Regions from separate parts of the Homo sapiens genome. Here all the other regions are reported to be linked to region 1. The links are microRNA targets in miRTarBase. Many come from high-throughput screens and were not tested one by one. Region 1 holds a microRNA gene; each other region holds the end of a gene's coding sequence.

Region 1 (3,126 bases):
CCTGAATTCTAGGCATGGTGTTATGAATCTCTATGCCCTGGACTGCAGTTTATTGCCTTGGATTATATTTAGGTATGTATATATATGTTTGCTTTCCTTGAATTTTGAACTCCCTGTTTTATACATGTACCTTATAACCTTTCTTTTGTTAGGAGATACTTTAAATTGTACGTTCTATTTCATCTAGTAAAATCCAAGAAGAAAAAATACTGAGACTAATAATGTCTTAACTTTTACATTACTGTCAATCTAATAGTACATTTTGGGGCCTAATTCTACTGAGGAAGACTAGCTGGAAGAGAGGGACTGATGTTGTATCCAGTTACTCTCCACGTGACCCTGGAAATTTTCATTGGATCTTAGTTTTCTCACCTGTAAAATGGAACACAATGCTTTCCATACCTATTTTCAGGGTTACGTAAGTTTAATATATGAGAAAGTACTTCGCAATGGAAAAGTCTACATGAATGTAAAGTATTACTATTGCTGACATAATAAAAATATTAGTGTCAGTAGAAATTGTGAGTCATTTATAAAGATAATAGGCTAAGATCTTCTTAATATTCTTAACATTTGGCTAGTAGTTTATTCACCCCTCTTTTTGGTGAATACAAAGCAGTAAAACCATGTTTTCAAATTATTATTTGGTTATGCAGGTTAATACTTATATGGATTATTTTAGAAGTACAGGCTTCATGTTGAGTTTTGTAAAGAGCTTTCTCTTTGCCAAAACATTTTCAGACTTCAAAGAACCATTGTGTAAAAACTCTTTTACACCAATGTATCTTAAATAGTTTTGATCATTTTATTTAAATAAAGAAGCTGAACCAAAAGTTCTTCACTTTAAAGAGTGGCAAAGTCTTTCCATATGTGTAACAGACATACATACATACATATGGAAAGACTTTGCCACTCTTGAAAGTGAAGAGTGTGTGTATATATATACATATGGGGGGTGTGTGTGTGTGTGTGTGTGTGTATATATATATATATATAAATCTATTTTAAGTATATTTTTTGGAATACATATTTGTAGAAGAAAAGATTTGTAATTGTATGATATGAATGGATGCAGTCTTTTGATTATTGAAATCTGTCATCATTCTGTATTTAAATTTGAATGCTGCTATGTGATCTTAGACATGGAGGCAGAAACTTGCATAGAAATGTAATAAGAATAAGAATCTTGAATAGAAATCTTATCGCTTTCTTTTTGAAGAATTTGAAAAGCAATTAGAATTGCTTTCATATTATAAATGCTCACCATTGAAAGGTGCAATATTAATGAATCTTTATATTATGCCTCTAGTTATCTCTTAAGAGTTACTTTGATAATATAGACCTTTTGAAAGTGCCACACTGATGGTTTCAGGTTGCCTGTCAGTGTAATAATACATAATGCTTACAGTTATGGTGTCAGTTCTTTATTTTATGTTTAGGGAGCACATATCTCAGAACAGTTCAGGAAAGACATAGAAAAGCAGTTGTCATTTATAAAGTGTGTGTTATGTGCCAGAAAGTCACCTAGATGTTTTCTTATGGTTTATTCAGTTCTAACATCAACCTTATAAAGCATGAGGTACTATTATCAATTTACCAATGAAGAAACTGAGATGCAGGGATTAAGTAATTTGCTTAAGAACAAATAACTGATTTCAAAGTCCCTATTCTATCCACTCTACTCCCCCTATAATAAGAGCAGGTGTAAATGTCTATGTTGTTGTTAATAAAGACTTTTACAAAATGAAGTTCTAATTTAGTTAGGATGTTTTTCTCTTTTTCGAGACAGTGTTACTGGAAAGGGGTCCCAATCCGGACCCTGAAAAGAGGGTTCTTGGATCTTGGGCAAGAAAGAATTTGGGGTGAGTTCATAGAATAAAGTGAAAGCAAGTTTATTAAGAAAGTATGGGAATAAAAGAACGGCTACTCCATAGAGCAGCCCTGAGGACTGGTGGCTGGCTGTTTTTATGGTTATTTCTTGATTATATACTAAACAAGGGGTGAATTATTTATGAGTTTTCCTGGAAAGGGGTGGGGATTTTCCCCAGAACTGAGGTGTTCCTCCCTATTTTAGACCATACAGGGAAACTTCCAGACATTGCCATGGCATTTGTAAACTGTCATGGCGCTAGTGGGAGTGTCTTTTAGCAATCTAATGCATTATAATTAATGAATAATGAACAGTGAGCACTACCAGAGGTCACTTTTGTTGTCATCTTGGTTTTGGTGGGTTTTGTCTGCTTCTTTACCTTGTCTTATCAGCAGGGTCTTTTTGACCTGTATCTTGTGGTGACCTCTTATCTCATCCTGTGACCAAGAATGTCTAACCTCCTGGGAATGCAGTCCAGTAGGTCTCAGCCTTATTTTACCCAGCCCCTATTTAAGATGGAGTTGGCTCTGGTTCAAATGCCTCTGACAACAGGGTCTTGCCCTGTCACCTAGGTGGAATTGCAGTGGTGTGATTATAGCTCACTGCAGTGTTAAATTCTTGAGCTCAAGTGATCCTCCCACCTCAGCCCCCCAAGTAGCTAGAACTACAGGCATGCACATTTTTCTTTATTCAAATTTCTCTGCTAGGTCATTTTTATTTTAGAGATGAATTTCGGATCTAAAGTCTAATTTTATTAAAATTAAAAATTTTTAAACAATTAGAGTTAGTAGAGTAGGACTGGAAGGGCTTCTTTTAATTTAGACCCAGGCTTAGCGAATAAATTACTCTAAATAAAAGTTATCTATTATTGTTTTATTTTATTTTATTTTTTGGGACAGGATGTTGCTCTGTTGCCTAGGCTGGAGTGCAGTGGCACAATCTCGGCTCACTGCACCCTCCGCCTCTCAGGCTCAGGTGTCCTCCCACCACAGCCTCCCAAGTAGCTGGGACCATAGGCGGGCACCACCACGTCTGGCTAATTTTTGTATTTTTTGTAGAGACGGGGTTTCACCATGTTGCCCAGGCTGGTCTCAAGCTTTCGGGCTCAAGCAATCTGCCCAAAGTGCTGGGATTACAGGCGCAGCCACACCCAGCCAGCTATTATTATTTTAACTTTACCTTTTTAAATAGCATGTTTTACTCTCCAGGTTTATTTGAAAATAATACAGAGTTTCGCGTGTTGTTTTGTGTGTGTG
Region 2 (3,126 bases), not on the chromosome of region 1:
ACAAGGATGAGCAAAATTCAGGTTGGAATTTTAACTGGACAGATTGGAGGGTAACCAAATGTGGAACCCTCCAAAACCAGATGACTACAGGGATGTGTTTTGGACTGCCGAGGGTAGAGTGAGGTTTCAGGTGACTTTGTGGTCCTGAGACTGGAATTTGCAACTTGCCAGCATTTCATTTTCTCTATCTCTTTTTCCATAGGAAGTTTCTAAAACATCATTTGCGAGGAAAGAACTGTGAACTCCTGCTGGTGGTACCAGAAGAGGTAGAGGCTCATCAGAGTTGGAGGACCGATGTGTAACAGTTCTGCCCAACCTCCCTCTCGCCTCAGCCCCTTCAGTCCTCTGTGACGTGCTGTGGCCTCTACAGTGGGTCTGCCCTTGCCACTTCCCCAAACATCTCATCAAGTTTTTCCCCTTCAGATCTGACAGTGCAATAGGACAGACGTGTGGACTGTTATAAGAACTACTCAGTGTTTTGTTCCTGGGCAAGGAAGGTAGGAGTTCTGTGCACTTAAGGCCAGTGGTCACAAACCCTTGTTTTATTTAAGAGACAGAGGAGAAAGTGGAGCGGGGAGGGAATCCTAGCTTATTTTCCCTTTTCTATGAGGACTTGACACAGGTTCTGCTGAGTTGTCACTGCTGCTCCAGACTCACCTAGAGATGCTGCCTCCACTTTCCATCCTGTCTGGGTCTGAAAACAGTGGGTCTGCAGATAGTGCCCACAAACCCCATGTGACTGGTTTGAAGGACCCAGAGCATAAAGGTCTCTCAGGAAACCATGTCCAAAACCCTAGCAGCGGTACAGCATGCTGTCTCCAACCCTTATCCCCAGGTTTAAGGGTGGTTTATGGCCATACGTGGAGGTTTTTTGTTGTTGTTTTTGAGACTGAGTTTCACTCTTGTTGCCCAGGCTGGAGTGCAATGGCACCATCTCGGCTCACTGCAACCTCCACCTCCTGGTTCAAGCGATTCTCAGGCCTCAGCTTCCCAAGTAGTTGGGATTACAGGCGCCTGCCACCACACCTGGCTAATTTTGTATTTTTAGTAGAGATGGGGTTTCTCCATGTTGGTCAGGCTGGTCTCAAACTCCCGACCTCAAGTGATCTGCCCGCCTTGGCCTCCCAAAGTGCTGGGATTACAGGCGTGAGCCACCGCACCCGGCAGAGTTTTATAATGAAAAATTAACTAATATTCTAGTATGAAGTGAGGAGGATACTGAACAGGATGTGGCTAAAGCCAACCTGGGACAGCCATGGGGTGGCTTGGTTTCTTCACTCCAGTGTTGTCCCTACCATTTCGCAGCATTGATTTAGGAGGCTCTGGGACAAAAGAGAAGCCAAAGAGCAGTTTTCCCAGTTCACTCACTCTGGCAAAATCAGGAAAAAAAAGTCTGCTTTTGACATCAAATTCCACTAATTTGGGGCAGCGTTGGGTGAGGAAAGTATTGTGAAGACAGGCTTCTTGGAGTAGGGGCAGCCACAATTCAGTAGACACTCTAGGCTCGGAGGCTGCCACTGTAGTTGCCAAGCTCAGGTTGGGTGGTTCTGTGCTGTATGGATGGAATAGGACCTGGGCTGGTCATCTTCATGTCGTTTCCTCTCTGTATCAATGGAAGTTCAACCCGCCCCTACCTCTTCAGATAGTTGTAGGCCACTTTTCTCTTGTAACTTTGGAAAACAAAAGAGGAGAAATAAGTATCATACCATATGCGTGTCTCCAAAGTGGATGTGGTTGCCTCAAGGCAGGTGGCAGGCAGGGGTGACCTGCTGGCCCTCAGATCAATGGTCGTGGCAGGTCTGAGAGCTGTCCCACTGGCCAGACTTCTCTCCAGCAGCAAAGCCAGCCTGGGGCTTGCATGTTGATCCTGAGCAAGCTTAACGGGGTGAAGCTGGGCTTTCTCCCCCCTGTGACTGGAGTGCATGTTGACACCAGCACTTTTTCTGCACATGTATCTTCAATCCAACAAGGCCGTTTTTTTAATGCTGAGTAACAGGCCACCAAGCGGCTACTGCGTTATATCTTCTCAGCAACTGGCCGCAGTCTCTTCTGCACCATTTTCTACACCAGACCTGCTTGGCACCACAGGGAGCTCTTTTCCTGCCCTGCACAATGACATTCCAACCACCACCAGCCAGACATTACAGCCAACCTTGCTGATTGTCACAAGCAGGACCTTGGGGCCACTGGCACTGTCAGATAGTAAGCCATTTCTTGGGTAGAGGAGGAAACTCCTCTCCACAAATCCACTTGGGCCTGTGCAAATGGCACTTGAAAGAGTCCCCATGCACTTGGAGTCCATGAGCCAATGGGATATGCAAAGACGCTTAAACATTTCAGGGCTGGTTTCTCTGTTCATATCCAATTCTGGTGCTTAGGAACAGGGACCCATGCTGATGCCCAAGGGCAAAAAGCCCCACTTCCTTTAAGGAAGTGAACAGGCCTGACCCTGATGCCCAATAACGGGCAACCCTAGGCTTTTTGTTTTTCTTGCTTTTATTCCTTTTTGTTGTTGGCCTTGTGCTGCGTTTGTTTACAAAAGATGTATTTTGTTTAACCAAATATTAAAAATGGAAAACTCCATATATGTCTCCTTGTCTGCCTGAATTCTATAATTGTGTAAAGAAAAATAAACTTTAGTATGACGCTGTTTTAAAAGGAGTTCATTGCCAGCGTAAGTCATCTTTTAGAGACATATCATTCTTTGATTAACTCTTTCACCTGAGAAATCCAGACAAAATAGTCACTGAAATGGGATTTGGTTCAAAAGATGTCTCTAAGACATTTTTCAGTCTATTTTAATTTATAAAAACTAATCTTGACAATTTGAAGAATCCACCTAAGTACAAGTTTGTACCACACTGGTGACTAGTGTTTTTCCCTAGTTAACAAGTGAAAGATCATGTATACCCAGCGGGCCTGGGCCCAGCCCCACCATCCCGAGCGCACAGCAGCAGTGTTCTGTAGCTGGACTGCCTGGATTTGAATCCAGGTCTAGCACTTAACTCTGCAGCCTTGAGCAATTACCTTTCTGTGGCTGTTTCCTCTTCTGTAAAATGGGAACAGTACCACCTAGATTGTAGTGTTGGTTGATCTGATAAACACACAAAAGGCTTACTCTGGCTG
Region 3 (3,126 bases), not on the chromosome of region 1:
GTGTGGGAGAGAGTCCTGTGTGGGGAGAGTCTTCTGTAGGGGAGAGTCCTCTGGGGAGAGAGTCCTGTGTGGGGGAGAGTTCTCTGTGGGGAGAGTCCTCTGTGTGGAGAGAGTCCTGTGTGGTGGTGAGTCCTCTGTGGGGGAGAGTCCTCTGTGGGGGGAGTCCTCTCTGGAGTTCTCTTGGGCCCCTGGCTGTTCACTGCCTGTCTCCATGCCCAGCCTCCAAGCCCAGGCTGATGCAGCTGGCTGGGCCCCTCTTTCCGGCAGGTTCTCCATGGTGGTACAGGATGGCATAGTGAAGGCCCTGAATGTGGAACCAGATGGCACAGGCCTCACCTGCAGCCTGGCACCCAATATCATCTCACAGCTCTGAGGCCCTGGGCCAGATTACTTCCTCCACCCCTCCCTATCTCACCTGCCCAGCCCTGTGCTGGGGCCCTGCAATTGGAATGTTGGCCAGATTTCTGCAATAAACACTTGTGGTTTGCGGCCATCTCCTTGGTTATGAATGGCTGTTTCGCTGAGCGCCAGGCATTCTGGCATCATCACAGACTGGGTGAGAATGGTGAGGGCGCAGATGGGCTGAAAGGGAGAATGTAGGGGGTCCTGCTTAATTAAGGGGGAGCTAGGGAGGGCCTTTCAAGGGAAGTTTTTTTTTTTTTTTTTTTTTGAGACAGTTTCACTCTGTCCCCTAGGCTGGAGTGCAGTGGCATGATCTCGGCTCACCACAACCTCTGCCTCCCAGGTTCAAGCGATTTTCCTGCCTCAGACTCCCCAGTAGATGGGATTACAGGTGTCTGCCACCACGCCCGACTAAGTTTTTGTATTTTTGGTAGAGACGGGGTTTCACCATGTTGGCCAGGCTGGTCTCGAACTCCTGACCTCAGGTGATCACCCGCCTCCACCCCCCAAAGTGCTGGGATTACAGGTGTGAGCCACTGTGCCCAGCCTTGAGGCAGGTGTTACTGAGCACTGAGAAGGAGCCAGCAATCTGAAGAGGAAGGGAAGAAGCGCTCCCCACAGAGGCAGCACAGAGGGCGAGGCCTGGCCGATGGCATGTGGCGCACAGTGTGGCCTTTGTACCTGCTCTCTGGGTGCTGCCTGATGCCATTTAGTCTGGAAACCCCATGGCGGGAAGCTTGGCTCCCAGCATTCCTGCCGGGGCCCAGCCCCACCATCCTTTCAGACTTGACCCCCTCCTGGGCACACCCTCATCCCAGGAAGAGCTCAGGTCACTTTAGGACCATCTGATGGACAGGGAGAGGGGCTCTGGCACAGCACTTGCTCATTCCAGGAGGGCTCCCTGGGGGAAGAGTCTAGGTGAGCTGTGGAGGGGAGAAGATGCTGGTGAGGCCTGACCAGTGGTGGCTGGGTGTGAGGGGCCTCAAGTGGGGACACCAGCAGGGTGTGGGGATGGGGGCCATTGCCACGGCAGGCCCTGCTCCTGGGCCTCTGCCCCTTGGTGCAGGGAAGCCACGCCTGTGATGGTGAGGCCCCACTGCGTGGAGTCTAGGGGGCCTCTGTGCCCTGCGCGATGCTGCCTGCCTGCCCACCCCAGGTGTGGTAACAGCCCTCACAAGAATTGGTGAGGTGTGGACTGCTGCTGCCTCTCAGCCACCTACAGGGAGTCCGCATTCCATCACCGCGTGGAGCTGCCCTGCCATGAACCACATCAATACCTGGCTCCCAGGCACTTCCTGCGTAGTGGTCCCCAGGGGTCAGCCCCCACTGCTGACTCAGGCAGGCCACACTCTTGAGAGGTCAGGGAGAAGGTCAAAGCAGGGCCTCATAGAGCAAATGACCCTTGAGGCAGTGGGAGTGGCGCCTCAAGTGGGAGGCGGAGGGAGGCCCATAGCCCTAGGGGTGAGCCCCATAGCCCTAGGGGTGGAGGGTGGGACAATCCCATGCTGCCGCAGCAAGGTGGGTAGCAGGAGTAGGGGGGGAATGTTGGGGACAAGAGAGGATGCCTGGAGGTCAGTGGGCTCTCTGAAGCTGATGAGCAGCTTGCCTTCCACCCTACAGGCACCTTGGCCATGGGCTACCGTGTGCAGCCCCCAAGCTGGGAGGCTGGGAGAGGCACCAGATGGGCAGCAGGGAGCAGGACCCATGATGACAGCAATGCCCAGGAGGTGGAGGTGGAGATGTGTTGGGAGGGAGGGTGCATCCAGGGAGCTGCTTGCTGAAGGTGGAGGGGCTGGGTGCTTGTGGTCACGTCTGTGAGAACAGACACTCAGTAGGAGGGGAGCCAGCCTCCCTGCCCAGGGTTGCAGGTGCTCAGCCTACCCGAGTCGTGCTGCCCACCAACCTCTGTCACTGTGGTTCTCTCCCACAACCTGCCACCCCTTCAGGGGTCCCAGGTGGGGGCAGGGAAGGAGGCTGACTGCACCTCGAGCTGCCCTGGTAAACTGCCTGCCTCTCCTCTCCTGCCAAACTCGGGGGTACAGTGTTGTCCTCATGGACACGCATAACACAAAGCCCCTTTCTTTCCCGGATACCACCTCTTTATCCTCTCATCATACAAATGAGAAAACAGACGTGGAGCTTCCTACAGGGCACCTGTGAGCTAATGAGTGTCTCCATTAGTAAATAGGGGGTGGTGGTAGCAAATAGCCCACCCCACTGGCTGTGCACCCCACGCTACCCAGGCAGCTCCCTGCTATCGGGGAAGCCCAGCTCCGTCTCTGTCACTCTGCTGCCTGTTTCCTCTGCTCCTGGGCTATTATCTGGGCTGGCTGAGGCCAAGCAAGGCCTCTAGAGGAAGTGTCCCCTCCAAGGTCTGTTGCCACTGGCTGGGCCTCTAGGAAGGGTTGAGAGGGCTTCCAGGGCTGGGGTGGCCCTCTAGGACAGCCTGGTGTGGGTGGCGGTGGGGCTGTGGCCTCAGTGGCCCTGACTGCTGAGCATGTGGCTGAGCTTGCTGGAGTGAGGACGTCCTTGGGTGGGGGCACGGAGGACTGGCCCTGGAAGCTGCTCCAGGCCCTGGAGGGCCCAAGATTAAACAGCACCTGGCAAGAGAACCTTGCATAGCTGTCTCCAGGTTGGACAGGTGGGGCTTCAGGCCTGGAGATAAGGGCAGACCAGGCCACGGTGTCCTGGACCAGAGAGCCCTGGACATCTGGGCTGCACCTG
Region 4 (3,126 bases), not on the chromosome of region 1:
TGAGGGGCTTATGTCTAGGAAGGATGCTGTTAACGGACGCCATGCTCTCTTCCAGGTTTGTTGGTGGACCAAAGTAAGATCTACAGCAGGGCCTTCTACTCCTGCGCAGCTGGCATGGCCCTGGCTGCTGTGTGCCTCGCCCTGGTGAGACCGTGTAAGATGGGACTGTGCCAGCATCATCACTCAGGTGAAACAAAGGTAGTGAGCCATCGTGGGAAGACTTTACAGGACATACCTGAAGACTTTCTGGAAATGGATCTTGCAAAAAATGAGCACAGAGTTCACGTGCAAATGGAGCCGGTATGACACACTTTCTTACAACAACAGCCACTGTGTTGGCTGGAGAGGGATGGGGTGGGCCCAACGGGGACACAAGGAGGCAGAGGAGCTAACCCCTCTACTCCACTTTCAAAACTACATTTTAAAGGGAATGTGTATGTGAAGAGCACTACCAACATCGCTTTTGTTTTGTTTTGTTTTGTTTTAAGCTTTTTTTTTTTGCTTGTTTTTAAAGCCAAAACAAAAAACAACCAAGCACTCTTCCATATATAAATCTGGCTGTATTCAGTAGCAATACAAGAGATATGTAGAAAGACTCTTTGGTTCACATTCCGATATTAAAATAGTGACATGAACTGGCAAAGTGGTTTTAAAAGCTTTCACGTGGGATAAATGATTTTCTTTTTTTCTTTTCTTTCTTCCTATGGTCTTGTCTGAATAAACTACTCTCCTGAATAAAACAACATCCAACCCAGGTCATTGAAATGAAATTGGCCAGTCAAAAAAAAAAAGACTTCAATCATTTTTAAAATTCCTAATTTTCAGAAATATGAATAAATAGTTTTTGTTAAACCCTTTGTAAAATACCAAGGTTCCCGTTAACAAATTACGGCCTCTGCTTGCTGGAAATGAAATATAGTTTAAGACCAAACATTTTACTAATAAACAAATTTTAAGTATATATATATATATATAACTTGAACTTCATAAATGTGAAGATTACCACTTCTTTTTATGGCCAGTCCTTATCAGAAGTGTTTCAGTACAGAATATACAAAATGGCATTTAAAAATGTGTTTCCTGTTGCTTTTAGTTATACAGAAATATGTGACTGTAGTGTCTTTAATTTAAACCGCTATTTATTATTAAGTTATTCTAGGATGATTAAAGTAATCAAAAGAAATAAAATCTGAGACATAAGCAGCATTTTTACCTCCTTTCTGCAATCCTTTAAATGCCTCACAGAATACGTCTTATCTTGTAAAAATACTTTCATAAAAGGCCAAGTTGTCATGATTCTTCCATTTGATTAGGGGCAACGTGTGCTATTAAAGGGGAAAAAATAATGGATTGCAAATCGCCTTAGCTTTCAAAACTAATTTGTTTTATCATTTAAGAATACTTGAGGAACTTCTTTGATCAGAATTATATTTCAGAGAATTGTTAAAGCATTTCTGATTTAAAGAAAAAACCATCTAATTATTGAAGCATTTCTGTATTTCACATGGGGGTAACAGAGACAATTATGTTATAGCGAGTTACAAGTTGCAATTTACATCTTCTATAACACATGACTTGATTGGTCTAAGTTGCCAGAGGTATCGGGTAACTGGTCATTGTTTTGTTTTGTTTGTTTTATTCTTCCTTTTTTTTTGGAGTCACACTACATGTATAGTATTGCTCACGTTAGCAGTTTTCTGTAAGGAGGGCAAGTGTCAGGATAATAGGTGGACTTTTTACTCACCTATTTTACCACAATCTCACCCTGCAGGTGATGGTCAATGCTTGCTGCTCCATCTTTATTCATCGTTAATGTTAATTTATGACAACTCAGGGGGAAAAACATAACAAGCCTAGTTTGGTTACAGGTACACACAAGCTTGAATATTTCTCTGCACTGAAATGAAAGTGGCATAGTTCATCACCACCTGCTACATTTTGTAGAGCATCTTATCAGCCATAGAAATAGGACAATCTATAAAACTTTGGGGAGGGTGGGGGAGGAAATGACAAAGTGTCTGTCAAAAACAGGCATAATCTAAAACAAGGTGGATGTAGCAAATCTCTGTCACTGCTTGAGAACTTTGAGCTTGTGGCAGTTTTGCAGACTTACATGACTTCAGCACTTTACGACATATTTTTTACTATGAATGTTCAATACAATTTAATATTTATAACTGATTTCTGAGGGATCTGCTCCATGTCTATTCTGTTATCTGCATGAAAACAAAATGTATGCCAATTTCAGTATGTCAATAATCAAGGTTTTAAATGTTTGGAAGAAAATACAAACAAGATTGCTGATCTGTTCTGTATTAGTGACATTCTGGTACTTCTAGATTTGCAATAAATTTATGGATTTTTTATTTAAAGAGACCGATTCTCTTCTAAGATTTTTTATTGACTCTCACAGCATTCAGTGTTTGAGGCAATTAAAGTTATAAAAACTCACCAAAGATTCACTCCAAATAAATAATTTTTTAACGTTTATCTTCTGCAAAACCTTTTAACTCTACTAGAGACACATAAAGTTTCCCAAGAAGTTTCTACTGAACTTTTTATTTACTTATATTTATTATTATTATTTTTTGAGATGGAGTTTCGCTCTTGTTGCCCAGGCTGGAGTGCAATGGCACAATCTCAGCTCACTGCAACCTCCGCCTCCCAGGTTCAAGTGATTCTCCTGTCTCACCCTCCCATGTAGCTAGGATTACAGGTGCCCGCCACCATGCCTGGCTAATTTTGTGTATTTTTACTAGAGATTGGGTTTCACCATGTTGGCCAGGTTGGCTTCAAACTCCTGACCTCAGGTGATCCACCTGCTTCGGCCTCTCAAAGTGCTGGGATTACAGGTGTGAGCCATCATGTGCAGCCTAAACTTTTTTATGTCTTTTTTTTTTTGTATACTTTTTATACAAAAAAAAAGTATATATATACATATATATACTTTTTATACAAAAAAAAGTATATATATACATATATATACTTTTTATACAAAAAAGTATATATATACATATATATACATATATATACTTTGATCATTGAAAACAGGACGATTTTATTTTATGTTGAGTTTCATACGAACTATTTTAAAGCACCTTAGAAAAAGACTAAATAATTCAAGGG

What was found. The annotated mature microRNA hsa-miR-3688-3p reads UAUGGAAAGACUUUGCCACUCU and lies in region 1 at 895-916, shown strand. An mRNA with a match to its seed (bases 2 to 7 or 8) in the 3' UTR can be bound and repressed. Matches are read on the target gene's strand: a 7mer-m8 pairs with bases 2 to 8, a 7mer-A1 pairs with bases 2 to 7 and ends in A, and an 8mer does both.
Region 2: the mRNA of JOSD1 is a reported target of hsa-miR-3688-3p. Seed matches in the 3' UTR shown: 7mer-m8 at 677-683.
Region 3: miRTarBase lists PRDX5 as a target of hsa-miR-3688-3p. The part of its 3' UTR that is shown has no 7-base or 8-base seed match.
Region 4: the mRNA of SLC16A6 is a reported target of hsa-miR-3688-3p. Seed matches in the 3' UTR shown: 7mer-A1 at 541-547.

The regions. Positions count from the first base shown.
Region 1 is chr4:159,127,967-159,131,092 of GRCh38, forward strand. MIR3688-2 (microRNA 3688-2) reads left to right here and starts at 839; the gene lies at 839-925. All of the region lies in intron 1 of RAPGEF2 (Rap guanine nucleotide exchange factor 2), which reads left to right. MIR3688-1 (microRNA 3688-1) reads right to left here and starts at 928; the gene lies at 836-928.
Region 2 is chr22:38,685,078-38,688,203 of GRCh38, reverse strand. JOSD1 (Josephin domain containing 1) reads left to right here. Exons shown (of 5, transcript NM_001360236.2): 5 at 203-2,661. The coding sequence ends at 302. TOMM22 (translocase of outer mitochondrial membrane 22) reads right to left here. Exons shown (of 4, transcript NM_020243.5): 4 at 2,783-3,126. Among named protein-coding and RNA genes, the nearest start is that of TOMM22, 4.7 kb to the right of the region's middle.
Region 3 is chr11:64,321,319-64,324,444 of GRCh38, forward strand. PRDX5 (peroxiredoxin 5) reads left to right here. Exons shown (of 6, transcript NM_012094.5): 6 at 268-493. The coding sequence ends at 373. Among named protein-coding and RNA genes, the nearest start is that of PRDX5, 4.8 kb to the left of the region's middle.
Region 4 is chr17:68,266,276-68,269,401 of GRCh38, reverse strand. It overlaps SLC16A6 (solute carrier family 16 member 6), which reads left to right. Exons shown (of 6, transcript NM_004694.5): 6 at 56-2,376. The coding sequence ends at 306. It also overlaps a transcript of ARSG not described here. Among named protein-coding and RNA genes, the nearest start is that of AMZ2, 20 kb to the right of the region's middle.